Homo sapiens: one gene and its partners. The protein of the gene in region 7 purifies or fractionates together with the protein of the main gene of each other region. This does not show direct contact. Each region holds a gene or a part of one and is shown on either strand. Other genes may lie near its edges.

Evidence for each region.
Region 1: the proteins of DEF8 (region 7) and ZMYM6 purify together in Homo sapiens (affinity purification with mass spectrometry; 2 studies listed by BioGRID and IntAct, with this or other methods). This does not show direct contact.
Region 2: the proteins of DEF8 (region 7) and IFT122 purify together in Homo sapiens (affinity purification with mass spectrometry; 2 studies listed by BioGRID and IntAct, with this or other methods). This does not show direct contact.
Region 3: the proteins of DEF8 (region 7) and PKN2 purify together in Homo sapiens (affinity purification with mass spectrometry; 2 studies listed by BioGRID and IntAct, with this or other methods). This does not show direct contact.
Region 4: the proteins of DEF8 (region 7) and PKN3 purify together in Homo sapiens (affinity purification with mass spectrometry; 2 studies listed by BioGRID and IntAct, with this or other methods). This does not show direct contact.
Region 5: the proteins of DEF8 (region 7) and PASK purify together in Homo sapiens (affinity purification with mass spectrometry; 2 studies listed by BioGRID and IntAct, with this or other methods). This does not show direct contact.
Region 6: the proteins of DEF8 (region 7) and KDM5C purify together in Homo sapiens (affinity purification with mass spectrometry; 2 studies listed by BioGRID and IntAct, with this or other methods). This does not show direct contact.

The regions. Positions count from the first base shown.
Region 1 is NC_000001.11:35,025,185-35,029,331, forward strand, and holds part of ZMYM6 (zinc finger MYM-type protein 6), read right to left. Parts: intron 1-4,147. UniProt on the Homo sapiens protein: Plays a role in the regulation of cell morphology and cytoskeletal organization.
Region 2 is NC_000003.12:129,512,699-129,516,845, reverse strand, and holds part of IFT122 (intraflagellar transport protein 122 homolog), read right to left. Parts: intron 2,458-4,147; coding exon 2,292-2,457; intron 1,359-2,291; coding exon 1,247-1,358; intron 1-1,246. UniProt on the Homo sapiens protein: As a component of the IFT complex A (IFT-A), a complex required for retrograde ciliary transport and entry into cilia of G protein-coupled receptors (GPCRs), it is required in ciliogenesis and ciliary protein trafficking.
Region 3 is NC_000001.11:88,690,631-88,694,777, forward strand, and holds part of PKN2 (serine/threonine-protein kinase N2), read left to right. Parts: intron 1-1,093; exon of another isoform or gene 1,094-1,150; intron 1,151-4,147. UniProt on the Homo sapiens protein: PKC-related serine/threonine-protein kinase and Rho/Rac effector protein that participates in specific signal transduction responses in the cell.
Region 4 is NC_000009.12:128,708,356-128,712,502, reverse strand, and holds part of PKN3 (serine/threonine-protein kinase N3), read right to left. Parts: intron 1-4,147.
Region 5 is NC_000002.12:241,104,952-241,108,535, forward strand, and holds the end of PASK (PAS domain-containing serine/threonine-protein kinase), read right to left. Parts: exon of another isoform or gene 3,516-3,584; intron 3,350-3,515; coding exon 3,216-3,349; intron 2,549-3,215; coding exon 2,402-2,548; intron 1,773-2,401; coding exon 1,615-1,772; 3' UTR 1,148-1,614; downstream 1-1,147. UniProt on the Homo sapiens protein: Serine/threonine-protein kinase involved in energy homeostasis and protein translation. Phosphorylates EEF1A1, GYS1, PDX1 and RPS6.
Region 6 is NC_000023.11:53,211,257-53,215,403, reverse strand, and holds part of KDM5C (lysine-specific demethylase 5C), read left to right. Parts: intron 1-556; coding exon 557-715; intron 716-3,497; coding exon 3,498-3,617; intron 3,618-3,748; coding exon 3,749-3,907; intron 3,908-4,147. UniProt on the Homo sapiens protein: Histone demethylase that specifically demethylates 'Lys-4' of histone H3, thereby playing a central role in histone code. Does not demethylate histone H3 'Lys-9', H3 'Lys-27', H3 'Lys-36', H3 'Lys-79' or H4 'Lys-20'.
Region 7 is NC_000016.10:89,962,113-89,966,259, reverse strand, and holds part of DEF8 (differentially expressed in FDCP 8 homolog), read right to left. Parts: coding exon 4,135-4,147; intron 2,898-4,134; coding exon 2,817-2,897; coding exon of another isoform or gene 2,439-2,816; exon of another isoform or gene 2,349-2,438; intron 2,091-2,348; coding exon 1,950-2,090; intron 1,795-1,949; coding exon 1,685-1,794; intron 400-1,684; coding exon 297-399; 3' UTR 1-296. UniProt on the Homo sapiens protein: Positively regulates lysosome peripheral distribution and ruffled border formation in osteoclasts. Involved in bone resorption.

The DNA of each region.
Region 1 (4,147 bases), on a different chromosome or scaffold from region 7:
GCACAAAAGGTGGCACAGGCCAGGCACGGTGGCTCACGCCTGTAACCCCAGCACTTTGGGAGGCCGAGGCAGGTAGAGTTCGAGACCAGCCGGCCAACATGGTGAAACCCCGTCTCTATTAAAAATACAAAAATTAGCCAGGTGTGGTGGTGGGCACCTGTAATCCCAGCTACTCGGCAGGCTGAGGCAGGAGAACTGCGTGAACCCAGGAGGTGGAGGTTGCAGTGAACCGAGATGGCGCCACTGCACTTCAGCCTGGGCTACAAAGCAAGACTCCATCCCAAAAAAAAAAAAAAAAAAAAAAGAAAGAAAAAAAAAAGGTGGCACAAAGCAGCAGAAAGCATACAAGTTTGAAGACAATTAGGTTTAAATGAGAATGCATAAGATATGCTTAGCATAGCTTCTCACAAGGCACAGTCACTCAACAAATATTACTTCTCTCATTCTCATAACTTTTCTCTCCATTACACTATCAATTACCTTGAGAGCAGAAGTCCTATCTTTTCATCTCTGTAGCCTTTCTGAAAACAAAGTAACTAATACAGTTTACCATCCTGGTTAAGGGTTTGGGCTCTTGAATCAGACTGCTGGAGTCCAAATCCTGACTCAACCATTTATTAATTATGTGACTTTTAACGGGTTACTATCTAGGACTCAGCTTCCTCATGGGTAAAGTGGGAAGAGAAACAGTACTTAACTGAGGGTTGTGAGCATCGAATGGATTAAGGTATGTAAACTGCTCACAACAATGTTCAAGTATTATGGATTACAGCAGGCAGGAATAAAAACTCACTGAATGAATATGAATACTCAACATATATGAATATAAGGACTAAACTGCAACTTTTTTTTTTTAGATGGAGTCTCCCTTTGTCGTCCAGATTGGAGTGCAGTGGCGCAATCTCAGTTCACTGCAACCTCCGCCTCCCAGGTTCAAGTGATTCTCATGCCTCAGCCTCCTGAGTAGCTGGGATGACAGGCGCCCACCACCGCGCCCGGCTAATTGTTGTATTTTTAGTAGAGACAGGGTTTCACCAGGTTGGCCAGGGTGGTCTTGAACTCCTGACCTCAAGGGATCTGCCCACCTCAGCCTCCCAAACTGCTGGGGTTACAGGCACAAGCCACCGCGCCTGGCCTTCAACTATAATTTTAATATCCAGAACAAACTCTTAGAAAATCAGAAAATAAAAAACATTTTTATTTATCTCTTATTTTCCAATATTCAAAGGAGATTCATCAATGCAACATAGAAAATAATACACAATTTGTTCAATTGGCTTTTCAATCATAGTCTATACCCTCAATCATGAAAAAATATAGCCTATTCACCTGAAAACATTAATATAAACCAAAGACAACTGAGCAGTTCCTACCCTCTTAAATATACAATCTAAGCTGCTAGGGAGATTTCCATTATCACAATTTTTATATTCAGAAAGAACATTGAATTAACTTAAAGCACATTATTTGTTAAGTGTATAGGCAAGGTATAATGAAAGAAATATTGCATCTGGAGTAACAACAAACTGTTGTATCCCAGTTTTACCATGAGACACTGGTGAAGTCACTTATTCCTTCAGGTTCAGCTTCCTTATATGTGAAAGAGGCTCTTTTATTCCAATTATTGAACATGTACTTTGTGCCAAATCCTGTGCTAGGAATTGGAGATTCAGGTCAATAAGACCAATTTCTGACTTCAGAGAGACTGCAGTCTAGTGTGTCAATGAAAGATGAGGAGGAGATGGCCAGATTAGTATAATCAGTATGAAGACAAAATTCATTGACCTGTAGATACCATAATAAAAGTGATTGCACTATACAATTAAAAAAAAGAGAGAGAGAACAGCTCATTCTACTTGTGAGTGAGAAACTTCATCTTAAAAGAGGACAAAATTTTGCCAGCCTACCTAGCTTATTTCTTCTTCCACCGGCACAAGAAATGGCAGGTGCAAAGGCAGGGAAATAAAATGCAACCGAGTTTTAGAAGATAGTTTTGAGTGAACTGCAAATAGCTGGCAGCAGCATAGATTTGAAAAGGTGGAAACAATGAATGATGACACTGGAGAGGGAAACAAAGGCCTAAACATGGATGGTTTGGATGTCACATTGAAAGATCTTTGCTTCATCACACTGGAGGAAACAGGGTCTTTAAAGGGAGAAATATCACTCGATCTATACAGTACAATGGCATCACTGTAGAGTGTTTTGATGGGATATGTGACTGAAGGAAGGAGAATAGGTAGGAAACTATTATAAAAGTCCAAATGAAAAATAATGAAATAGTTCAGGCATGATGGCTCATGCCTGTAATCCCAGCACTTTGGGAGGCCAAGGCAGGAGGATTGCTTGAGGTCAGGAGTTCAGGACCAGCCTGGGCAACATAAGGAGACCCCGTCTCTACAAAAACTAGCTGGGTGTGGTGGAGCATGTTTGTGGTCAGCTACCTGGGAGGCTGAGATGGGAGGATCGTTTAGAGTGCAGTGGCCATACTCACACCACTGCACTCCAGTATGGGCAACAAAGTGAGACCCTGTCTCAAAAAAAGGAAACAAAAAAAAGAGAGAGAGAAATAATGAAATATAGAAGAACATCATGGGTCAGATACAAAAAATATTTAAAAGCTAAAAACCACAAAACCTGGCAAAGAAATGGTTACTTTAGGCAGAGAAAGAGTAAGAATTTACCATCTGGAGGGAAAACAAGTAGCATGGATGCCACCATCCCCCACTCCACATCTAACAGACACTACCTCAGAACTCTTCTTAGCCCAGCACTCTAGCAAGGCATAGAGTTCATGAGTGAAACAAAACCTACCTGACATCCCTGTCTTCTTATGATACTGCCTGTGGCTGGGCATGGTGGCTTACAACCATAATCCCAGCACTTTGAGAAGCCGAGGTGGGCAGAGCACTTGAGGTCAGGAGTTTTGAGACCAATCTGGCCAACATGGCGAAACCCAGTCTCTAACAAAAATATAAAAAATTAGCCAGGCGTGGTGGCGCACACCTGTAATCCCAGCTACTCAGGAGGCTGAGGCAGGAGAATCGCTTGAACCTGGGAGGCGGAGGTTGCAGTGAGCCAAGATCGCGCCACTGCACTCCAGCCTGGGAGTGACAGAGCAAGACTCCATCTCAAAAAAAAAAAAGGAATGATACTGCCTGTGAGATGGTGTGAAAAATAAAATTGTTTTTTATTATTTTAAAATATAATTGCTTTGCTGATACAATAAAGTCAATAACTTTGAGTGTAAAGCGAAAGAACTGTCCCAGAAGAAAAATTCCTTGCCAAAACAACTAACTCATCTCTCCCATTGATTTTATTTTATTTTTTTTTGAGACGGAGTCTCACTCTGTCACCCAGGCTAGAGTGCAGTGGCGCAATCTTGGCTCACTGCAAGCTCCGCCTCCTGGGTTCACGCCATTCTCCTGCCTCAGCCTCCCAAGTAGCTGGGACTACAGGCGCCCACCACCACGCCCAGCTAATTTTTTGTATTTTTTGTAGAGACGGGGTTTCACCGTGTTAGCCAGGATGGTCTCGATCTCCTGACCTCGTGATCTGCCTGCCTTGGCCTCCCAAAGTGCTAGGATTACAGACGTGAGCCACTGTGCCCAGCCTCCACATTGATTTCCGTGCTCTCCATTCTGGGTCCCTATGGGGTAGCCAGAATGATCTTTCCAAACACAAATCTGTTTCATCTTACTTTCTCACTTAAAACCCTACAATTGGCCAGGTGTGGTGGCTCACGCCTGTAATCCTAGCACTTTGGGAGGCTGAGGTGGGTGGATCACCTGAGGTCAGGAGTTTGAAACCAGCCTAGCCAACATGGTGAAACCCCGTCTCTACTAAAAATACAAAAAATTAGCCAGGCGTGGTGGCAGGCGCCTATAATCCCAGCTACTGGGGAGGCTGAGGCAGGAGAATCACTTGAACCCGGGATGTGAAAGTTGCAGTGAGCCACCAAGATTACAACATTGCAGCAAAACTCCATCTCAAAACAAAAACAAAAAACCCTATAATGGCTATCTACTGCTCTTAGGATAAAAACCAAAATTTATAACAAGGTCTGCTACGTCCTACATAATCCAGCCTTAAACTATATATACAGCCTTATCATAGAGAAGCAGAATAGCACAAGTTCTGGAGTCTG
Region 2 (4,147 bases), on a different chromosome or scaffold from region 7:
TGTGCAGGGGCAGTCTCTGTGTGTGTGTGCAGGGGCAGTCTCTGTGTGTGTGCAGGAGCGGTCTCTGTGTGTCTGTGTGCAGGGGCAGTCTGTGTGTGTGTGTGCAGGGGCAGTCTCTCTGTGTGTGTGTGTGTGTGTGTGTGTGTGTGTGCAGGAGCAATCTGTGTGTGTGCAGGGGCAGTTTCTGTGTGTGTGTGTAGGGGCAGTCTCCGTGTGTGTGTGTGTGTGCAGGGGCAGTCTCTGTGTGTGTGCAGGGGCAGTCTCTCTGTGTGTGTGTGTGTGCAGGAGCAATCTGTGTGTGTGCAGGGGCAGTCTCTGTGTGTGCACGCAGGGGCAGTCTCCATGTGTGTGTGCAGGGGCAGTCTCCATGTGTGTGTGCAGGGGCGGTCTCTGTGTGTGTGGGCAGGGGCAGTCTGTGTGTGTGTGCAGGGGCAGTCTCTGTATGTGTGTGCAGGAGCAGTCTCTGTGTGTGTGTGCAGGGGCAGTCTCTGTGTGTGTGTGCAGGGGCAGTCTCTGTGTGTGTGCAGGGGCAGTCTCTGTGTGTGTGTGTGTGTGTGTGCAGGAGCAATCTGTGTGTGTGTAGGGGCAGTCTGTGTGTGCACGCAGGGGCAGTCTGTGTGTGTGTGCAGAGGCAGTCTCCGTGTGTGTGCAGGGGCGGTTTCTGTGTGTGTGTGTGCAGGGGCGGTCTCTGTGTGTGTGTGCAGGGGCAGTCTCTGTGTGTGCAGGGGCAGTCTGTGTGTGTGTGTGCAGGAGCAGTCTGTGTGTGTGTTCAGGGACAGTCTGTGTGTGTGTGTGCAGGGGCAGTTTCTGTATGTGTGTGTGTGCAGGGGCAGTCTGTGTGTGCGTGTGTGTCTGTGTGTGTGTGTGGCCTCTGCTCAGCTCCTGGGAAGGGGCTTCTGATCCTCTGTCAACATCAAAGGAGCTGGGCCTTGATAACCTATCTCAGCCTCCTGGTCTGAATGCAAAGCCATCGGACTCTCTTTCTGGGGCATTTGGTTATGTAAAGCCCTGCGCCAGGTTCCCAGAGTGGGTGCTTCAGCTTTGGGCAGCAGTGGGTCCTATCTCTGGGAACACCGACAGTGACTCCTTGTGTCAGGTAGGTGGGCGTCAGAGTGTCCTCATTTCATAAACAGGGACATTCAGAGGCCTTTGGCCCTTGCCCAACGTCCTGAGGCCAGAGAGCAGTGGAGTGAGCCTGGCTGTCCACAGGCTGTCCCACCCACATGCTCAGGATGCAGGGACTCACCGTAGGAAGAGGCGGAGAAGATGAAGGGCTGGCGGCAGTTGATGCAGACGTTGCCCAGGTTGTTGAGCAGCGGGTTGTTGGTGGAGCAGCGGTAGCACAAGGGCACCAACTCCTACAAAACAGCCACGGACTCCCGAGGGGCCGGGGCAGGCACGTGTCCTCCTCCCCCTGGACTCTGGCTTCAGGCCCCTGGGGCCTGGCTGCCAAGAGGAAAGGCCACCCGGGTGGGCAGGCAGGGAAGGGGCGCCGGGCCCAGGAGCTCCATGCCATGGGGAAGCAGGATAAAGGCCTGCCGAAATACCCAAGCCCTGTCACTTGGGTCCCCGTGCCCAAGACACCTGCACAGGCAGCGCTCAACGGCACTTTTCCCCTGGCAGGAATGACAGTGGCCGCTGCCACCATTAGCCAGCCATTTACCATGCTCCGGGCACCGTGCGGAGCACGTGGACTATACTGGCTCATTTAGCCTCACAACTACCTGTGGGAAAGGGGGAACCCAAGGTGCAGAAAGATGGAGACAGAGCTAGGAGAGGGTGGAGCCGGGATGTGAACCCAGGTCTGTCTGAACCAAGTCCTTGCTCTGAGCTTGAGGGAGGATGTGTGAAAGAAGGAAGCTGGCTGGGTTGAAGGAATGTGGGTTGGGAGTGTGGGGTAGATTTGCTGGAGAACTACAGCCTGGTTCCAGAAAGGGCAGAGGTTTCTAGAGTAAGAGTCAGCTCTGGGGCCAGGCCTGGGGTAAAGGCAGAGCCACCTGGGCACAGAGGTGTGGGGCTTGCCTAGGGGAGGGCAAGGAGCAAGGGAGGCCAGGCTGAGGGCTGAGGCCGGGGCCGGGGGCTGTGAGCGGGCGCCAGGTGGACTGCGGGGAGAACAGGAGGTGGACAGGGAAGCACAGGGGAGCTGGCATGGCCAGGCTTGAGCAGGGGGCACAGAGCCTAGAGGGAGCTGCAGCTGTCTCTCTTCAAACGGAACCCAGGCCAGGCAAGAAGGCATGAGATGGCCTCAAGGGAGAGGAGAAGCCACCTGCCCAAGGGTGCTGCATCCTCACCTCACTGTCGTGGAAGGGCTTGGCGCGGATGGTCAGGGTACCCAGCTCAATGGACTTTTGGAATCTGGCAGGGATGTACAGGCCACGCAGCTTGTCATAGGCGTGCCGGGCCAGCCTGTAGGCACCGAGGGCCTTGCTCTGCTTGGCCAAGGTGAAGAGTATTTTCCTGCCGTGAACAGGGTTAAGGACAGCAGGGGCAACACCAGGCCCAGGAGCTGGCACTGCCTGTCCTTGGAGTGAGCCCCAGGCTGGAACACAGCTTGTGCTGGTGCCGGGAAGGCAGAGGAAAGACCGTGAGGAAGGCTCTGTGCGCTTGTGAGAGGTGAGTGTACTTCTCGGATGGCAAGGCCCAGGAATTTTTCCAAAGATAAAAACAGCGTAGTTTCCATTAATACTTTAACCTTGCTTAGCATCTCTGGGCCTGCTGATGGCTCATCTTATACCCTGACTAGGCCAAAATGGCTCTTCCTGCCTCACCAAACCTGCCAGCCAGGCCCTCCTAGGATGCCTGGCACAAAGGGCACTCTGCTCTCACCCTGCCAGGTGGGGCCTGGTCCAGACTCCCTGGGGAGCCACCCTCAACCCTGCTCTGAGGCCCCTGGGTGTACCCCACTCTGTCTGCACACCCTTCCCCGAGGGCCTGGTGGGCAGTTTCTGAGCGGCAGCCTGTGCTCTGGGGCCCCCTTGAAGCTCCTCAGCCAGAGGCTGACGAGCCTTTGTGCTCTCCTCTCAGGTCACCTCCGATGTTGGCTGCCCCCAGGCCCTCCTGCCCTTCCTCCCGCATCTCTCCCAGTGTTCCTGCTCCCGCCGTCTGCAGTGCAGCCCCGTCCACTTCAGCAGTTCTGTGGAGAGTTTCCTTCTGTGTCTCCAGCATGACTCCTCAAAGTCAGGGACTGTCAGGAGCCATTTCCAGGTCCCCAGGGGATGGCACAGGGTAAGGCTCAGGGTAGAGGTTCTATCAAGCTGTTGACTCAAACAGAACTTGCTGGAAAGGATGAGTACAGGTGCTCAGCCCCCACAGGCATAGCCCTGACTGCTCCTACGGGGAAAGACGGAGACGCATGCAGCAGAGGTCTGACTCCAGGAAGGCACCCCTTGATTTGAGGGTATTTCCCCTGAAATGTACATAATGGGCCTGGAATCCTCTAGCGAGGCCAATTCTTACAACAAGGAGCTCTGGGTCTTCTCCAGTGGAGTGGGTTTTCCTTACAGAGGGAAGGTGGGGCTGCGGCTGGGAAGGAGCTGAGAGTACAGTGAGATTTAGAAAAGAACAGGGACAATTATGTCTCCTGACATCCAAGACCTTAAAAATCTGGATCATTGCCTGGTAATGATCCAGTATCTGGCTGCACAGGCCCTTCAGGCACCTGCTCTGCTTATGGTACCACTGTGGCCCTCGATGGCTACAGAAGAGAGGAAAACCCAAAGGTAGGCTCTCAGGCCTTGGGTCCTGCTGCCTCTCCGGCCCCTCCCACCCAGGGTCCCCTCACCCTCTCCCACATGCCTTGCTTGCCTCTCCATATGCTGGGTCCTCCCCTGGAACATCCACTTGGCCATCTTCCCTGGCTGCCTCAGCTTGCATGATGGACATCTCCTCCTCCAGGTAAACTTCCCTGACCATGGCCCTGACCTCAGCTTCATTCCACCCTCAGACACAGCACACATCCACCAAACCAGACCCTAACTTGTGACCTCCCTCTTTGATGGCAGCTTTGCCACCTGGTGCCTGGCCCAGGGCTTGGGGCACAGAAGGTGCTATGTATACCTGGGCTGAACAAACACTCCCTCCTCCCCAGTCTGGAGAAGTGCCCAAGGTTCCAAGCCTGAAGGCCTGGTGCTTCTTCCATTTCAGTCAC
Region 3 (4,147 bases), on a different chromosome or scaffold from region 7:
ATGCATGTCTAGCTTGTCTTAATTTTATCTGATGAAATCTTGTTTGAAACTAGCTCTATTATCATACTTGGTTTTTTTTTGCAATCACAAAAATGAAATTTGTGTAACATTATATACATAAATATTGCCTGTAAAAAATGAAGATCAAGAAAGCATGGGACAGTGTACTTGATGACAGTAAACACCTTAAATGTGAAGGTAGTGTTGAAGTGCCTCATAAAGATGAGTGGATATACAAGACTTACATAATATTGTTAGGATTTATCTCTTTTAGAAATTTGTCAGTGACTTATCAAATTGGTGAAAGTTTTACTGCCCTGGCTCATAAGTACCTTAATTTAATGGAATGTAGTTATGACAAAATTTGGAATTTATTTTTGATTATAGAAGACATACCACACAATACATGTGCTGAGAGTTTTTTATTTATTTTATTTTTATTTTTATTTTTGAGACAGGATCTCGTTCTGTCACCCAGCTTGAAGTGCAGTGACGTGATCTCGGCTCACTGCAGCCTCTGCCTCCTGGGCTCAAGTGATTCGCCCATCTCAGCCTCCCAAGTAGCTGGTACTATAGGTGTGAGCCATCATGCATGGTTGATTTTTATATTTTTTTGGAGAGACGGGGTTTTGCCATGTTGCCCGGGTTGGTTTTGAACTGCTGGACTCAAGCAGTCCACCTGCCTTGGCCTCCCAAAGTGCTAGGATTACAGATGTGAGCGTCTGTGCCTGGCCTGAGTATCATATATTTTACACATTAATCATACTGTTTTCCCTTCCCTGTAGTTGCTACCTTAGGGATTCTTTAAGGAGGTGTTTGTTCTCCATTTCAGAATTTTCATTGAACAAATTTTATGCAACTTTTGGATTTTTAAAAAATTTGTTAAACATCAGGCACACTGCATTGGATTAATCACCTATCTGTCTGTCAATCATTTTAATAAGTACTCATGGACCACCACTCCCCCTCTCTCAAAACAAGCTAGGAACTTTAACCTACGTATAGTTTTCCTCTATTCTATCCGTCTATTTCCACCTTCTTGTCATCTAGGTCATCATTTTTGAGTCCTGTGTTCATTCTCTTCCTTATATAGTAGTCCCTCCTTATCCACGGTTTCAGTTACCCATGGTCAACTGTGGTCCAAAAATAGGTGAGTACAGTATAGTACTATAAGATATTTATAAGTACTAAGATACTTTGAGAGAAACCACACTCATAACTGTAATTACAGTATAGTTATAATTGTTCTATTTTATTATTAGTTATTGTTAATTGCTTACTGTGCCTAATTTATAAATTAAACTTTAGCATAAGTATGTATGTTAAAGGAAAAGTGTAAATAGAGTTTAGTACTGTTCGTGGTTTTAGGCATTTACTGAAGGTCTCTCGGTGGATAAAAGGAGACTACTGTGTATAGTTTAGTTGGACATATAAATCTAAACATCTTTTAGTTGTTTGTATAGAATTGTGAATATAATCTTTTTGAACTTGATTTTTCACCTGTTATAAATAAGATTTATCCACATTTTTGCATGTTGCTATAGTCATTATTTAAATTGCTATATAATATTTCATTGAGTAAAATATTCATTAACTCTACTTTGGTGGATATTTGGATATTTATCCACTCTCCCTTGTTGGGCAGTTATTTTCCATTTTTTGTTTTGTTTTGTTTGTAATTATAAGCAAAGATCCTATGGACAGTCTGCATGTTTCCTACTGTGCATGTGCCACAGTTCCTATTATATACCTAGAGGTAGCATTGCTGCCTCACAGGGTAGGTGAATGTTCAACTTAAGAGATGATGCAGAACTTTCAATATGGTTGCACCAATTTATATTCATATTAGCAATATATGAAATAAAAGATCCTTTGGTTATCCATCCTCTCCAACACTTGATATTCTCTTTTTAAGTTTTACAAATCATAAGGGTGTAAAATGTTGCCTTATTGTGGTCTTGATGCGCATTTTCCTGGTTATCACTGATGTAGAACACTTCTTTTTATGTTTGTCGGCCTTTTTACGTGGCTTCTTCAGTGAAATTCCTATTTATGTCTCTTGCCTATTTTTGTTTTTCTTACTAGTTTATAAGAGTTCTTTATATTGCTTATGTTAATCCTCTGTGTACATTGTGAATGTCTTCTTTCAGTTCCTAACTTTTTCGCTTTCTTTTATGGAGTTGTGTGGGAGGGACAGTTTTAAATGCCTCTACCTTCTTTGGCAAATATTTGGAATAATTTACATCGTTATCATCAACAGGCTTGTATTTAATATCTATTGTACATTTGGTATAGAAAGGGTAAAGTTATATTAATAGTTTATGGCCTGGGGATTTGTAAACTATCCAAATGAACAGCCATAGGAAGTTGTATAAAATATTGTATTGCTTCACACATGCTAGGCACCCAAATGCTAGGTTGATTTAGTTAATGAGTAAATTCAGAAGCAAAGAAATAGCAAAAATTATACATACACTTCATCAGTTGCTTATTTTCCAATTCCATACCTCTCTGTTGCAAACTACTTATTATTAGTCATTAATAATATTTTATTCTTTTGTTTAAAGGGCAGTATATTCCGTAAGATTATGTGAGTCAGTTATTTAGGTATTTTCATAGCTTGCCATTAAAATGCTGGAGTTGATCAGATTTAATACTGGATATAAAGCAAAATATTAATCTTCTGAACAGTTTACTAGTTCAGAAGTTTACAAACTCGGAATCCTAAATACAGTTTTTGTCATTGCTGTGCATCTTTTGATAAAAAAAATTCTTAAGTCAAATTTGTCCATTGTTTATCATACAGTAAGTCCTCACTTAATGTCATTGACGGGTTCTTGGAAACTGACTTTAAGCAAAATAACTTATAATGAAACCAGTTTCTTTTTTCTCATCAGTGTTCTAAGGAAATGATATTATAAACAATGAAACATTAGCCAGAAGTGGTGATGCACACCTGTAGTCCCAGCTACTTTGGAGGTGGAGGTGAGAGAATGACTTGAGCCCAAGAGTTAAGGCTGCAGTGAGCTGGAATCGTGTCATTGCACTCTAACCTGGGCAGCATAGTGAGACCCTGTCTCAAAAAAAGAAAGAAAAGAAATGATATTGAGCGAAACAGCATTATTAAAGGACCTGAAGCACATTGTTTTTCTTAAAGTCTCAGTTCCAAGAACCTATCAGCAGTGTTAAGTGAGGACTTACTGTAATTGCTTTTCATGCCCTTTTAAATAAATTATTCCCTATCCTGGGTTTAAAAGATAGCTACCCAAGTTTGCTCCTAAGAATCTTGCAGTTTTATTTTTTAGATTTAAGTCAGTTTATCTGGATTTGTTGTTTTTTAATAGACTTCATATTTTAAAGCAGTTTTAGGTCCACAGCAAAATCGAGAGGAAGGTCTAGAGATTTCTCAAATAACTGCGTCCCTACATATGTACATATGCATTATCGACATCCTCCACAAGAGTACATTTGTTGCAGTTGATGAACCTATATTGACACATCATCATCATCCAGAGCCCAGAGTGCACACATCTTGGTGTTGTGCATTCTATGGGTTTGTACAAATGTATAATGACATGTATCCAGCATTATAGTATACAGAATAGTGTCCCTGCACTAAGCTTATTCTCTGTGTTCTACCTATTCATCCTTCCCTCTCCTCCATCCCCTGGCAACCACTGATCTTTTTACAGTTTCCATAGTTGTGCGTTTGGGAAAATCTCATGCGGTTGGAATCATACAGTGTGTAGCCATTTTACATGGGTTTCTTTCACTTAGAAATAAGCATTTAATTTTCCTCCATGTCTTTTCATAGCTTGATAGCTTATTTCTTTTTAGTACTGAATAATATCCCATTGTCTGTATGTACCTTAGTTTATTCATTCACCTACTGAAGGACATCTTGGTTGCTTCTGTTTTGGCAGTTATGAATAAAATGCTATAGACATCCTATGCAAGTTTTTGTGTGGATGCAACTTTTCAACTCCTTTGGTTAAATACCAGGGTGTCCAATTGTATGGTAAGAATATATTTAGATTTGTAAGAAACTCCCAAACTGCCCTCCAGAGTGCCCGAACTATTTTGTATTCCTACCAACAATAAGAGTTTTTGTTGTTCCACACCATCTCCAGTATTTGGTGTTGTCAGT
Region 4 (4,147 bases), on a different chromosome or scaffold from region 7:
CTGGGCCTCAGTTTCCCCATCTGAACAGTGGAGGTGAGTCCCAGCTCTGCCCCACCTCTCCCAATGGATATGAAACGTGTTTTGTCAACGGAGTAAGTTCATGTGTCACGTCACTAGAGGGTTGTCCCTCAAAGGGTAGAGAAAGCAGTGGGGATCTAGCAGCTTTTGAGGACACGAAGCAGGCCCAAGAGTATCATTTAGGGAGAGTCTGGGCCTGGGGGTTACACACAGAGAGAACTTGTAAACAAAGGCAGGGGTCCAGGGTAGAAAGAGAAGCTTAGAAAGAACAGCTCGGCCGGGCGCAGTGGCTCATGCCTGTAATCCCAACACTTTGGGAGACCAAGGCAGGCAGATCACCTGAGGTCAGGAGTTCAAGCCCAGCCTGACCAACATGGCGAAACCCCATCCCAACTAAAAATACAAAAACCAGCCGGGCATGATGGTGGGCACCTGTAATCCCAGCTACTCGGAAGGCTGAGGCAGGAGAATCACTTGAACCCGGGAGGCAGAGGTTGCAGTGAGCCAATATTGTGCCATTGCACTCCAGCCTGGGCGACAGAGCAAGACTCCAGCTCAAAAAAAAACAAACAAAACAAAAACTTGAGGCCGGGCGTGGTGGCTCACACCTGTAATCCCAGCACTTTGGTAGGCTGAGGCAGGTGGATCACCTGAGGTCGGGAGTTCGAGACCAGCCTGGCCAACATGGTGAAACTCTGTCTCTACTAAAAATACAAATATTAGCCGGGCATGGCGGTGGGCGCCTGTAATCCCAACTACTTGGGAGGCTGAGGCAGGAGAATCGCTTGAACCTGGGAGGCGGAGGTTGCAGTGAGTCAAGATTATGCCACTGCACTCCAGCCTGGGCGACAAAGCAAGACTCTGTCCCCCACCCCCCCCAAAAAAAAGGCCGGGCGTGGTGGCTCACACCTGTAATCCCAGCACTTTGGGAGGCCGAGGTGGGCAGATCACGAGGTCAGGAGATCAAGACCATGGTGAAACCTCGTCTCTACTAAAAATACAAAAAATTAGCCGGGCGCAGTGGCGGGCGCCTGTAGTTAGTCCCAGCTACTCGAGAGGCTGAGGCAGAAGAATGGCGTGAACCCGGGAGGCAGAGCTTGCAGTGAGCCGAAATCACACCACTGCAATCCGGCCTGGGCGACAGAGCAAGACTCTGTCTCCAAAAAAAAAAAAAAAAGAGGTGGGGCGAGGTGGCTCACGCCTGTAATCCCAGCACTTTGGGAGGCCAAGGCGGGCAAATCACCTGAGGTCGGAAGTTCGAGACCAGCCTGACCAACATGGAGAAATCCCATCTCTACTGAAAATATAAAAATTCGCCAGGTGTGGTGGTACATGCCTGTAATCCCAGCTATTCAAGAGGCTGAGGCAGGAGAATTGCTTGAACCCGGGAGGCGGAGGTTGCAGTGAGCCAAGATTGCGCCACTGCACTCCAGTCTGGGCAATAAGATCGTGTCACTGCACTCCAGCCTGGGCAATAAGAGCAAAACTCCATCTCAAAAAAAAAAAAGGACAACTCAAGTATCTGGGGTGTTTAGCCAGGGGACAGGATATGGGGTGGCCTTGAGTAGTTGACTTCTAGGCCTTTTAACAAGCTGTTTCTTCTGCGTTCCTCAACTTGTCTACTTGGCCATAAGTACTCCCGTGTAAGTCCTTCAAGGCCAAGACACCACCTCCTCTAGAAAACATTCCTTGGGCCGGGCATGGTTGGCTCACGCCTGTAATCCCAGCACTTTGGGAGGCCAAGGCAGATGGATCACCTGAGGTCAGGAGTTTGAGACCAGCCTGGCCAACATGGCAAAACTCTGTCTCTACTAATAATACAAAAATTAGCCAGGCATGGTGGTGCAGGCCTGTAATCCCAGCTACTCGGGAAGCTGAGGCAGGAGAATTGCTTGAACCCAGGAGGCGGAGGTTGCAGTGAGCTGATATCGCACCACTGCACTCCAGTCTGGGCGACAGTGCGAGACTCCATCTCAAAAAAAAAAGAAAAGAAAATATTCCTCGATTCCCCAAGGCCAGGTGAGAGGGCTCCATCCAGAGCCTGCATTTCCTCTTCTCAGCTCTGCTCACAATGGAATGGGGTCAGTCGGCCCTGTAGCAGTGCTCTGTGGAGACAGGCACTGGCCTTTCCAGCTCTCACTGTATCTCGGTGGGATACAGCTTCAAAGCCCATGCTCTCAGATTATTTGTTGATGATGATTTGGCTGCTGCTACAAGGAGACAGATCTCAGTGCAAGATAAGAAAATTAACTTTTTTGGCCGGGCGCGGTGGCTCACACCTGTCCCAGCACTTTGGGAGGCCTAGGCCGGCAGATCACAAGGTCAGGCGATCGAGACCATCCTGGCTAACACGGTGAAACCTTGTCTCTACTAAAAATACAAAAACAAAAAATTAGCCAGGTGTGGTGGCGGGCACCTGTAGTCCCAGCTACTCGGGAGGCTGAGACAGGAGAATGGCATGAATCCGGGAAGAGGAGCTTGCAGTGAGCCGAGATCGCGCCACTGCACTCCAGCCTGGGTGACAGAGCTCAGAGTCTCACTCTGCTCGGAGTCTCACTCTGTTTGGAGTCTCACTCTGTCACCCAGGCTGGAGTGCAGTGGCACAATCTCAGCTCACTGCAAGCTCCGCCTCCCAGGTTCATGCCATTCTCCCACCTCAGCCTCCCGAGTAGCTGGGACTACAGGCGCCCGCCACCACACCCAGCTAATTTTTGCAAATTTTTTTTTTTTTTGAGACAGAGTTTTGCTCTTGTTGCCCAGGCTGGATTCCAATGGTGCCATCTTGGCTCACTGCAACCTCCACCTCCCGGGTTCAAGCAATTCTCCTGCTTTAGCCTCCTGAGTAGCTGGGATTATAGGCATGCACCACCAGGCCCGGCTAATTTTGTATTTTTTAGTAGAGACGGGGTTTCTCCATTTTTGTCAGGCTGCTCTCGAACTCCCGACCTCAGGTGATCCACCCACCTCGGCCTCCCAAAGTGCTGAGATTACAGGCATGAGCTGCCGTGCCCAGCCTAATTTTTTTTTTTTGAGACGGGCTCTCTGTTGCCCAGGCTGGAGTGCAGTGGCGCGATCATGGCTCATTGTACCCTCAACCTCCCTGGGCTCAAGCAATCCTCCCACCTCAGCCTCCCAAGTAGCTGGGACTACAGGTACGTACCATCATACCTGGCTAATTTTTTTATTTTTTTATTTTTTTTTGAGACAGAGTCTCGCTGTGGCCCAGGCTGGAGTGCAGTGGTGCGATCTCGGCTCACTGTAGGCTCCGCCCCCCGGGGTTCCCGCCATTCTCCTGCCTCAGCCTCCCGAGTAGCTGGGACTACAGGCGCCCGCCACCACGCCCGGTTAATTTTTTGTATTTTTAGTGGAGACAGGGTTTCACCGTGTTAGCCAGGATGGTCTCGATCTCCTGACCTCGTGATCCGCCCGCCTCGGCCTCCCAAAGTGCTGGGATTACAGGCGTGAGCCACCGCGCCCGGCGATTTTTGTATTTTTTGTAGAGATGGAGCTTTGTCATGTTGCCCAGGCTGGTTTCAAACTCCTGGACTCAAGTGATCCACATGCCTCACCCTCCTAAACTGCTAGGATTATAAACATGAGCCACTGAGCCAGACCAGAAAACTCTTTCTTTTTTTTTTTTTCTTGAAAGAGTTTTGCTGTGTCACCCACGCTGGAGTGCAACAGTGCAATCTTGGCTTACTGCAACCTCTGCCTCCCAGGTTCAAGCAATTCTCTTGCCTCAGCCTCCCCAGTAGATGGGATTACAGGCATGCGCCACCACGCCCGGCTAATTTTTTTTGTTTCTAAAGATGAGGTTTCACTATGTTGCCCAGGCTCGTCTAGAAATCCTGGGCTCAAATGATTCGTCCACCTCAGCCTCCCAAAGTGCTGGAATTACAGGCTTGAGCCACTGTGCCCAGCCAAGAAAACTTTCTTTTTTTCTTTTTTTTTTGAGACTGGGTCTCAAAAAAACTCCTGAGCTCAAGCAATCTTCCCACCTCAGCCTCTCAAAGTGCCAGGATTATAGGTGTGAGCCACTGCACCCAGCAATTTTAGTTTAATTTTATTATTTTTTTTCCAAGGAAATTATTATTATTATTTTTTGAGATGGAGTCTTGCCCTGTTACCT
Region 5 (3,584 bases), on a different chromosome or scaffold from region 7:
GCGGAGGTTGCAGTGAGCTGAGATCGCACCATTGCACTCCAGCCCAGGCGACAGTATAAGACTCTGTCTCTAAATAAATAAACAAACAAACAAACACCATTCTATAACATCCTCTGTGTTATAAGCACCATAAACACTACAAGGTAGGGGTTCTTAAAACATCAGAAAACTCTTTGAATTCTGAAGAGTGAACATCACTGACTTTAATACACACCTGTAAAACCCTTGTACCTTGAATGTCCCTGATAGAGGAGGGTCCTCCCCCACCAACTCCATCAGTCACTTGTGGTGGCAGCGAGGCTCAGGCAGCACTTTCTGAAGAAAGGGATGGCAATAGCCCATATCCTACTAGATGGGACTAAAATTAACTCTGATCATCCCAAAACAGTTGAGTGCCTCCTAAATAACCACTAGAAATAGCTCAGAACCACGCAGGAGGCAGCCTGGCTCCCAGGCAGCTTCCAGAGGGTTCTGGGCAGGAGTCTCAGAATGTGGAAAAACCGTCTGCAAGTGATGACATGTGGGAAAAGGGTAGGGGTTTAGGTTTTTGGTTTTTTTCCTACTGTCTCAGCAGGGGAAAAAAATGAAAGGTTCTGCTCTCACCTCTAGCTATTCCCTCCTCTCTAACACAGACATGAAATAAAACAATCCTAAGTACTTGACCTAGCCAAGTCTGTCTGAGGGGGATGGACTGGAGTCTAAGGGAGGGAAGCAGCCAGTTGAGTATCTGACAAACACCCTGGAACCTGAGCAGCTCGGAGGAATACAGGGCTGGAGCCCCTCACACAGACCAGAGGTGGGGGCTGGGCCAGGAAGCCCCTCATGTGGACAGAGGTGGGAGCTGGCTGGCCATGGGATATTTGGGGACTGCTGGCAGTGAGCCAGCCACGTGTTTGACAGCAGAGTCTTGCTACAGACAGAAGGGAGGTCCCTGAGGAAGCCACCCTCCCCCGTCTTACCAGATGGAGCAAGCTTCAGAGCCCTAGGCCCACCCCTGGCAGGGCCTGCTTGTAAAAGGAACCCCAGAATGGCCAAGGCTAGACTTCTCTCCAACTGTGGCAAGTGGGGTGCACACATGGAAAAATGAGGAAACCAGGTATTTCTCACACTTAGCACACGGGAACAGTTCACAACATCCAAGTCAGGATAACTGTTTACTAACAAAGGTGCTTTAATTTGAAAAGCATTTGAGGAAATAAATTAATGAAATAGTCTGGCCATTTGACTAACCAGTTCTACAAATTTCACATATCCGTCACTCAGATGAGCATATACCAAGTCAGAGGAAACAAAACATGCACATATACAAAAGTAGAAAGAGAAAACACTCATGCCTTCAGAAGTTCACAAATTAAAAGCCCTTTAATAATATAAAACAGTTGAACACTGGAATGTTTTTTTCTAGGTCATGAAAAAAGTGAATTCCAAATCTATGTAATAAATCTAAAATAATACAGCATCACTGTCTTCTGTTCTGGTGTTTATCAAACCTGCACATGAGTTTTTAGAAGGTGAATTGGGGATGCTTCAGAATGTATTTTCTCCAAACAGATGGAGCCTGAAAACTGTGTGATTTTCCAAACCAAGTGGAGAAAAGCAGGAAGAAATTGGTGTTTAGCTGGTCAGCAGACGGGGATCCCCGGGATGCAAACAGCCTTGGCCATTAGGAGCCTCGCCTGGAACGGGGCCCCCACAAAGCTCCTGAGCCTGGGCCACATCACTCAGGCTCCTGTTCCCCATCTCCAGGCTCGCAGCGGACAGAACTCCACTTTCTGAAGAAACAAGAAGGTAACTGTATCACGTGCTAACAACTTAAGGTTCTAAAATACTTTGCTTCTCACTTGAAGAAGTCCTAGAACAAAAGCCTAAGGTGAGGCCCTCAGAAATCCAACTGGCAATGTCCCGGAAGTACAGATCCTGCCAAGGTGGGGATCTAAGCCCAGGGCCATCAACCGCAGCTTGGTCCAAATGCTCTGAGCAGTGGTTTTGGCTCTGTGGCCAGAGCCTTGTCTGAAGAGCCCTCGGCCCCGCCGGCTGCTAGAGAATCACTCTCAGCATCTGTGGCCTCATCCTCCCCTTCGGCCCAGTCAGACCATCACCAGCTGCATTCCTCAAACCATCTTTGAGGGTTCCGACCCCTTCTGCCAGGAGCTCCCATGACACCTGCCCACCCTCCAAGGTCCAAAGCCACACCCTGAACCCCAGTGGTGTCCAGAGGCCTCGGGACAGAATCAAACCCCCTCTCACAGGTGACAGGTCAGCTATAGGCCCTGACATTTGTGTCCAAGACAGCATGGGGGAGAGAGCCTCCTTTTCCTCCTTTTGACCTAGGAAGGCAGCCTGGGGACCTCGTTATTCCAAGTGAAGTCATGTGGGGTGGAGGGATGCTGAGAAGCCTCACCTGGCTTGTTTACTCGAAACACCTCTTCCCATGTATAGTCAGCAAGATTCACAGGCTGTGTTACCCACGGGTCTGTCACCAGCTTCTCCAAGGTGGTGCGTCTCTCAGGGACTGGCTGCAGCAGCCCAGACACAAGGCTCATGAGTTCTGGGGACACAAAGAACACAGATGGTAGGTCCAGATTGGGATGAAGTGGAGCACATCTCAGATTCCTGGGTGCTCACCACCCCCCCGCAGAGCCTCTGACTGGGCAGGTGGCGGCCCAGGAACCTCTAGTGCAGGGCCCAGCTGTGCTTGGACAGAAGCTGCAGGAAACATTCATTGCCTCTGAAATGAAAGCTTGGAGTTCAAGATGCCATCCCACTCAACCAAAATCCAGGTGGTGCAGAGGTTCCTAACTGCTCTATTCTCAGGGGCTCTGGCAATGCAGAGCTGTGAATAACGCAGGGTTAACATGACAGGTGAGGGGATGCCAGCACAAGCTGAGAGAAGCCCCCAGCCTTGCATCTGGATTCGGGCCCCAGTTCCTTTAACCATGTAGGCACCAAGTCAACAGGGCCACTTGGAGCCTCCCTGTCCTGACTGCAAGTGTGTTTCTCACAAGAGGGCCTCTAAGATCCAAAGAGGAACATTAACAAAAACTAAATTATCAAGATGTTTTAAAGTCATATGCAAATTATTTGATGAATAGAAAAGAAACAAATGAGACTGTTGATATGGACAGAGATACACTGAGGAATGAGGAAATGGGAAAAAAAAGTGGCTGGTCTCTAAGGACAGTGTCGACTGTCTACCACTTGCAGCTCACGCTCACCTTTGGACACCAGGTATGGCGGGTGTATGGCAGCCTCCACGGTCTCCTCCAGCTCACAGAAGGGGTTCTCCTCAAAGACCAGCGTGTACAGAGTGACTCCCAGAGACCACATCTCCAGCTCCGGCCCTCTGTAGCTGTGAGGAGGAGGAGGCATCAGGACGCCACGGCACTCAGCGCAGGCTTGCCAAGCCCGCCCATGGGAAGCACCATGGCCCTTCCCGACCAGCACACAGGCCAGGCAGTGGTTTCCCAAGAGGAGGGTCACTCCACCCCTCAAACACGCCCTCCATTTCCACGCACTTCTGCCCCAGGCCAGCCAGCAGGCCATGTGCCAGGAGTGGAGAGGCCATCGGGCAGCTCCGAGGCTAA
Region 6 (4,147 bases), on a different chromosome or scaffold from region 7:
ATGCAGTATGCTCTTTCATCCCTATCCTTTGCACATGTTGTTTCTTCAGCCTGGAAGAGATTCCCCCTGTGCTCTGCCCTGTTGCCATGTTTTGTTTTGCCTTCAGGTTTCAGCCAGTTTCAGGTGTTACCTTTTCAATGAAGTCCTTTCTCAAGGCCATCCCTCCTTATCTCCAGCTGCTTTGAGTGCTTCCTTCTCTAGGCTCCCACAGTGCCCTTTATGGACCGCTATTGGCAATTTTTAATTTTTATGAACACATGTCTCTAGAGTACTGTATATACTTGGAAGGATACCATGTCTTGTCTTTGTGCTAGAGTCCAGCGTAGTTCTGAATACGGGTTTAGTAAGTGTTTATTGGATGAATAAAAATGGGAGGATTCAAGACTGGATGATAAAAGACTGCTCTTGCAGCTCTACCTGCTTATTTGGGGAGATGGTACATACGTGCAGTTGAGCTCCAGACCTAGCATGACTAGCCTATACAGGGCTGTAAATCATTCAGCCAGCAAACACAGTGGATTTCCAATGGAGAACTTTTGCTCTTCTCCCCTGGCAGATTGAGTCATATGTCTGCCGGATGTGTTCTCGAGGGGATGAGGATGACAAGCTCCTGCTGTGTGATGGCTGTGATGACAACTACCACATCTTCTGCCTGCTGCCTCCTCTGCCTGAGATCCCCAAGGGTGTCTGGCGGTGCCCAAAGTGTGTCATGGCGGTAAGGCCTCCCCACTCCACATCTGCCTCATAGGGCTTCCTTGCCTTCCTTCATCTGGCCTTATTGAGGGCAGCCTCTTAGCTCAGCCATAGTCTTAGGTTTTGGGTCTCTGTGGTGGGATTAGGCTGGGCAGAGCTTTGGGAGAAAGGAGCAGGAGATTCAGCCTTTGCTTCTGTCCTCTAAGAGCTCCCAGACCACCTGGAGAGGTAAGCATCATAATTAGACTATATGTGGTGACATATAAACAGAGGCTAAATTGTGTGTTAGAAACTCTGAGATATAGAAGTTCAGAGGAGAGGAAAATAGCTAAGGGTAATAATCAGGGAAAATGTCAGAAATGAGACTTGAAGGATAGGAATATTAAGAAAAAAATGTTCTTTCAATTTCTGAGTTTTTGTTTTGTTTTTTTTTTTCTTTTTTAGAAAGTTTGAGGCCGGGCGCGGTGGCTCACGCCTGTAATCCTAGCACTTTGGGAGGCTGAGGTGGGCGGATCGTTTGAGCCCAGAAGTTTGAGACCAGCCTGGGCAACATGGCGAAACCCCGTCTCTACCAAAAAAGATACAAAAATTAGCCAGGCATGGTGGCGCACGCCTGTTGTCCCAGCTGCTCGGGAGGCTGAGGTGGGAGGATCGCTTGAGCCCAGGAGGCGGAGGTTGCAGTGTGCCAAAATCATGCCACTGCACTCCAGCCTGGGCAACAAAATGAGACCCTGTCTTCAAAAAAAAAAAAGACATTTTGGAAAATAGGCAAATTACTTGTGTTCCCACCACCCAGTGATAACCATTGTTAATAGTTTGATATATTTTTTTCTCATCTTTTTGCTGTTACTTATATGTAACTATCTTTAACAAGTTTGAGATCTTGTTATATATTTTCATTTGTTGCTTTATAACCATTTCTCTATATTACTAAGTTTAATTAAGGTCTGGAATTTTTTTAGATGGTGTATCATGGGTATAATATTTATTTAGTTGTTTTCCTCTTGTTATATTTAGATTGAGGCAGTGCTACAGGCTTTAACTAGAGAGGTGGTTGGCTGTTCAGGACTGGGAGGTGGAGGACTAGCAGGAACAGAGGTATAGCAGGAGAGCATGCCTACTATGGGTATAGGGGCAGTAAGGAGAGCAGCTGAAGCAGCAGTAAGGGCCAAGCAGCCAGGAAGTTGGGCAGGTACATTTCATGAACTTCCTACCTTCACCCAAATTCTCGGTACTTACCTTCTACATTTCCCTCTGGATTTCTGTAGAGCAGACATTCGCCTTATCTTAGGGACTCAACTGTGGTTGTAGAGACCGGGTGTGCACATGCATACATACACACAGACAGACATACACAGATGAGGAAAAATCAGGGCAGTGCATATTGGCCTTGGTAGTGGTGGAGATTCTAGTTGGGGAGGAGTTTGGATACCAACAGTATCAAGACTGTCGACTCTACTTGACTCTCTTCTCTAAGTGGTTATAAGTCAGTGGACCAGACGGACATTTATTTTTCAAACATAAGCATGGTGTGTGTCTGATTTTGGGGTACATATTGTTCTCATCTAAAATAATGAACATAGGTACAAAATGAGGTAGACCCACATCCTATCTTCTGAGACAGTCTCAAGAACAGGATTAGTGGAGGGTTTGATACTGTAAAAGCCAGTGTCTTCATTTTCCATCTTTCTTTTTTCTTTTTCTTTTCTTGCGACAGAATCTTGCTCTGTCACCCAGGCTGGAGTGCAGTGATGCCATCTCTGCTCACTGCAACCTCTGCCTCCCGGGTTCAAGCGATTCTCCTGCCTCAGCCTCCTGAGTAGCTGGGATTACAGGCGCCTGCCACCACACCTGGCTAGTTTTTGTAGTTCTAGTAGAGACAGGGTTTCACCATGGTGGCCAGGCTGGTCTCGAACTCCTGACCTCAGGTGATCCACCCCACCTCAGCCTCCCAAAGTGCTGGGTTTACAGGCATGAGCCACCATGCCCGGCCCTGTTTTCCATCTTTCAAGGTACTGGAATATTCAATGCCATTTTCCCAGCCTTACAGTTCTAGTCTGGGCATAAAAAACCTTCTCTAAGCACCCTGCATAGAACCACATTTTAGAGGCCAGGCGTGGTGGCTCACGCCTGTAATCCCAGCACTTGGGAGGCCAAGGCGGGCGGATCACAGGGTCAGGAGTTTGAGACCAGCCTGGCCAACATGGTGAAACCCCATCTCTACTAAAAATACAAAAATTAGCTGGGCGTGGTGGCGGGCACCTGTAATCCCAGCTACTCGGGAAGCTGAGGCAGGAGAATCGCTTGAACCTGGGAGGCGGAGGTTGCAGTGAGTTGAGATTGTGACCCTGCACTCCAGTCTGGGTGACAGAGCAAGACTCCGTCTCAAAAAAAAAAAAAAAAAGAATCACATTTTAGCTAGAGAGGAAAAATGGTGGCAGAAGAACACAGGATAGCATATTAAAGTCAGAGCCATTTAGATAAAGTCCTAAAGGAAGAAAAGAGCATGAGATGACTCCCTGGAAGTTGTGAGACTGGAATTGAGTTTTGAGGAACCAATGAAAGAAAGTGGAAAAGGACATTTCAGTAGGGAGGAACTGAGCAAAAGCATGATGGGGAATGAAAAGACTAAGCCGAAGTGGTAAGAGCAAAAGGTACAGCTGTAAAGTAAGGCCTGCCTCAGGGGCCTTGAGTGCAGACCTAGGGCTCTTCTCCCTCCCTACCCCTTATATTCCAGTTCCACTTGGGAGGATTCTTCACCTCTTTGCCTCTGTTTTGGTGACATGTTCTCCTTTGGGTTTCAGGAGTGTAAGCGGCCCCCAGAAGCCTTTGGCTTTGAGCAGGCTACCCGGGAATACACTCTGCAGAGCTTTGGCGAGATGGCCGACTCCTTTAAAGCTGACTACTTCAACATGCCCGTGCATGTAGGTGATGGAGGGCTGAGGTAGTGTTGGGCTAGGATCATAGGTATTGATGCCAGATGGTCTCAGCTCACCTGGATCAGTGGGTCCAGGGTGTGATGGGCCATAGTCATCTGCTACCTGTCTTCCCCCAGATGGTGCCCACAGAACTTGTGGAGAAGGAGTTCTGGAGGCTGGTAAATAGCATTGAGGAAGATGTGACTGTTGAGTATGGAGCTGACATCCATTCCAAAGAATTTGGCAGCGGTTTCCCTGTCAGTGACAGTAAACGGCACCTAACCCCCGAAGAGGAGGTGAGTGGATGATTCATGGTTACGTGTCAGCTGTGTGAGCTTAGGCAAATCATTTAGTATCTGAAAAACTCAGTATCTCTGTAAGATGAGGATAATTATGCCTGTCTTATGTAGCCATGAGATTTAGATGAGATGAAAGAAAACAGTCTGGTACCTGGCATGTACAAACATGAGATGGGTTCTTTCGCCTCTGTGAGCCCATTTCCTTATCTTTAAAATGGGGATAATATCTACTTTGCA
Region 7 (4,147 bases):
AGGTGAGATGTCCCCCCAGCTCCCTGCCCATGGAGTTCTGCATTGGGGGAAGGATGGGGGCCACGCAAGGACCCCTCACAGCAGCACACCCAGGTGACAGCCAGGTGCAGCCGCCCCGAGTCCCAGCAAGCACCTGGGAGACAGCGGGCCTTGACACTGCCCACCCGCTCTGGCCCAGCAGGGGTGGAGGGGGCCAGGGCCGCACCCCAGGGGTCTCCGGAGCAGAAGGAACAACTTGATGTTGGCAGGGTGGGTCCTGGCGGGCCAGGCGGGGTGCCCAGCACTGTTCCTCGGCGCTAGGCCTCCACATCGGGACCTGGCTCCTGGAAGAGCGACTGCTTCCTCAGGCTGAGCCGGGCACACTTGGGACAAGTGGTGGAGTTGTCGTAGTAGCAGTCCCTGGGGGCAGAAAGAGGTCGGGGCTCTCTGCACAGGAAACTCCAGCACTGAATCCCCCCAAGCGTCCTAGGTCAGCTCCTATCATCCCCTCTACAGCCGTTACCAAAGGGCAGAGTCGGAGTCTGCAGCCAGATGCAAGTGACTGTATGGCCGTGTGCAGAGCGCTTACGGGCGTGCAGATGTGGACCTCCAGGGGTCCTCACGCTACCTGCTATCCCCCAACCACACAGGTCCCAGTTCACACAGCTGAGGGGCTGAGCCAGGTGGCCACGCCAGACTCGACTCAGAGCCCTTCCTCACGATTCCCACCTGTTCCTATCCCTCCCCTGGCTCCCAAACTGTACATCACGGCACCCTGGGGCACCGCAGCCTAGTTCAAACTTTTAAACAGAACGTAGCAGTAATTAACACCTGTCAGACACTGAGCAAACGACTAGCTCGAGCGAGTTCAGTCTCAACCTTAGTTTCTGCCACAGTCCCATCTGTGTGACACCATCGCTCTGTAGAGCTGGGATTTCAGCAGTTGCTATGAAAAATAGCAAATTCCAGGCAAAAATCAGGGGACAGAAACTGGGGGGGAGTGTCCATCTGATTCCAGGTCTGGAAGATGTGTGAGGCCCAAAAGGTGTACCCATATCATTAGTAAGTAATCATACTTACTGAAGAATGAAATTAAAATATTTTTCTTCTAATTTGTGTACATTATTTTTCCAAGAGCCACTCAATCTTTAGGATACAAATACTTATAAAGTTGTTTGAACATAAGTATTTTTCCCTGTTGGTCTAGCGGCTAGGAAAAAAAACGCGAGAGCATAAGTACTTAATAAATCAAAGTGTTAGGAATTTCTTCTGGCTTAGAAACACTTTGAAAAAATTACTGAGACATTAAAGGGTGGCAGGAACTATAGGTTTGGGAATCTCTAGCCTATACTAACCCTGAAAGAGTGACTTCAATCCTAGTAGAGAAAGGGAGCAGCTGGGATGCTGTGAACACATCAGAGACCAAGCTGGAGTTTCAGGGGCTGGTCCGGGAGGGACCTGGGAAGGGGCAGCCCCCTCATCCCCCAGGTGCCGCTCCTAAGGGAACTTCTCATTTAGTCACAGACATCAGGGTCTGACTTCATATCTCAGGGTCAGCAAAGACCCAAAGAGTCTTTATGTCTCCCCTTTCTCGGGGGAGCAGTGCCAGCTCCCACGGCATCATCCTACCGGAGGCCAAGGGGCAGCTCCCCAGAGGACAGCGCAGAGCCCCAGCCCCCGAGTGCGGGGCCCAGGCCACACCCACCTGTGGAAGACCGCGGAGCAGTCGGCGCACACAGACGTGTGGCTGTCGAACGGGAACAGCACGTCGCCCTCTCTGCAGAGCTCACACACGAAGCCCTTGGCCTGGCACCGCTGGGGGGAACAGTGTGGGGTTGGGGCACGGGCACGTCAGTGCCAGCTCCTCTGGGCACTCTGAGGCCAGGGACACACTGGGCTGGGCTGCTTCTCCTGCCAATCCCCCCTCAGGGCTGGGGTTGGAGAAGAGCGGCCCTCGGGCAGAGGCCCACCTCGCAGTCCAGCTTGATGTGCTTGGCGAAGAGCGTGTGGATCTCGGTGAGCGAGCAGCCCAGGCGGCCGGCATGCACGTCCAGGAGGTCCTGGACAGAGTACATCTCGTCGTTCTCCACAAAATGCTGCCGATCCTGGAGCTGCCAAGTCCCAGCAGCCGTGACGCCCTGCACCGGGGAGGGCCCCTCCCACCGCCCACCCATGGTCGCTGCAGTGGTCAGGGCCCAGGTGCTCACAGAGAAACGAGCTACACAAGGGTCTGGGCCCCAGGAGTAGAATCCAGGAGCCCCAGGAAGCCGACAGGGGAAGATGGACCCGGGCCACGTTTCCTGACCTGTGTAGCCCCCCGCCCTCCACTCCCTAAGGCAGCCCCTCCCAGCCACACCGCATCCCCGCACTCCCCACGCTTCCCACATTCCCCACCCTTCCTTCTCTATCTTGTCACAGAGTTCACCACCCCAGCACACAACGTATTTTTCTTGTCTTCCCTACTTGAAAGGCACTAAGGGCAAGCATTCCTGTCTGTTTCGTTCACTGTTCCAGAATCTAGAACATCTGTATCTGTTGAGCACATAATTAGATGAACCTTGAAAACTGTGTTTTGTGGTCAACCTGCCTGACGAGGGCTGGGCTGGACCCACCCCATGGAGATTCACATAAGGGCTGCAGGGTTTGCCAAACGGAACTGACTGGAGAACTCTTTTGTAGGCAGAACACCTGTTTGCTTTGTTCCTTGGGACCGTGGTGAGGCGACCCTCTGCTAAAGGCACTCCACGCACAAGCTGTCCGGAAAAAACCTGAGCCTGAGGTGCCTCACCACCCTGGCTGCGCTTCCCATCGGGGGCCAGTCCTGCTGGCAGTCTGACCTGCAGCAGCAGACGAGCCTCCATGGCCTCCCTGCAGGTGATGAAGTACGGCTTCATGAGCAGGATGTCCTGGCGCAGCTTCTGCAAACAAGGCGGGAGCAGGCAGGCCTCCTCAGCCAGGACACAGGGCGGCCCCTGTGTGGGCCGCACACCCGGGGCCACGGCAGGGCCAGGAGGGGTTGGTTCCCCACGAAGGGCCGAGATCTGAGTGCTTCACCAAAACCCAAAATCACAGCTCCCAGGCTGGGCAGGACCGTGAGGCTCACTTACCGTGGTCCAGAAAACCCTCCCTTCCCTCTGCCCTCACCCGGCCCCACAGGCACACAACTGTCTAGGAACCAGCAGCCTCAGGACCAAGCCAAACTTCCGGAGAAATCCCAGCTGCCTCCCCAGCCCTGGCCTTGGCAACTCAACGTGCTGCCACAGTCTCCTCCCGGGTAAAATGGGACCTGCCTCCTTTCACTACCTGGCGTGAGACGCCATCATGTCCTGCCAGGACTGCAGCTCCCGTCTGCCCTCGGCTCCCGCCCTACCTCCTCCCTCACCGCTGGCTAAGAGAGTGGCCACCAGCCCTGCACAGCCACAGAGCACCTCAAAGTGGCCGCTGTGCAGTGAGACTTAGCAGAGGCTACATGCTGGAGCCAAAGACGTGGCACAAAAAAGAAAAAGAAAGCAAATATCTCAAAAATGTACATTGATTTCATGTTGAAATAACATTTTGGATATATTGGGCTAAATAAAATATACTATTAACATTAACTTCACTTGTTTCTTTTTACTTTTTTTTGAGACAGAGTTTCGCTCTTGTTGCCCAGGCTGGAGTGCAGTGACGCGATCTCGGCTCACAGCAACCTCAGCCTCCCGGGTTCAAGTGATTCTCCTGCCTCAGCCTCCCGAGTAGCTGGGATACAGGCACACACCACCATGCCCGGCCAATTTTGTATTTTTAGTAGAGATGGGGTTTCACCATGTTGGTCAGGCTGGTCTCAAACTCCCGACCTCAAGTGATCCACCCACCTCAGCCTCCCAAGTGCTGGGATTACAGGTGTGAGCACCGTGCCCAGCTCTTTTTACTTTTTTAACGTGGCTATTACAAAATTTAATATTGTGTTCACACCTGGCATCAGATCACTACGGGACACCGCTCCAGCACCTTCAACCAAAAGGGCAGCCGCGGCGCCTGGCTCACCCTAAGCAGGTGGCCTCCCTCCTCTGCTCAGAACCTCCCGTGGCCCAGAGGAGAAGAGGGTACTGGCCCGGCCCTAGGGCCCACCTGACACAGCGCCCCCGCCCCCCACTTCCATGGCCCCAGCCTCACGCGAATCTCCACC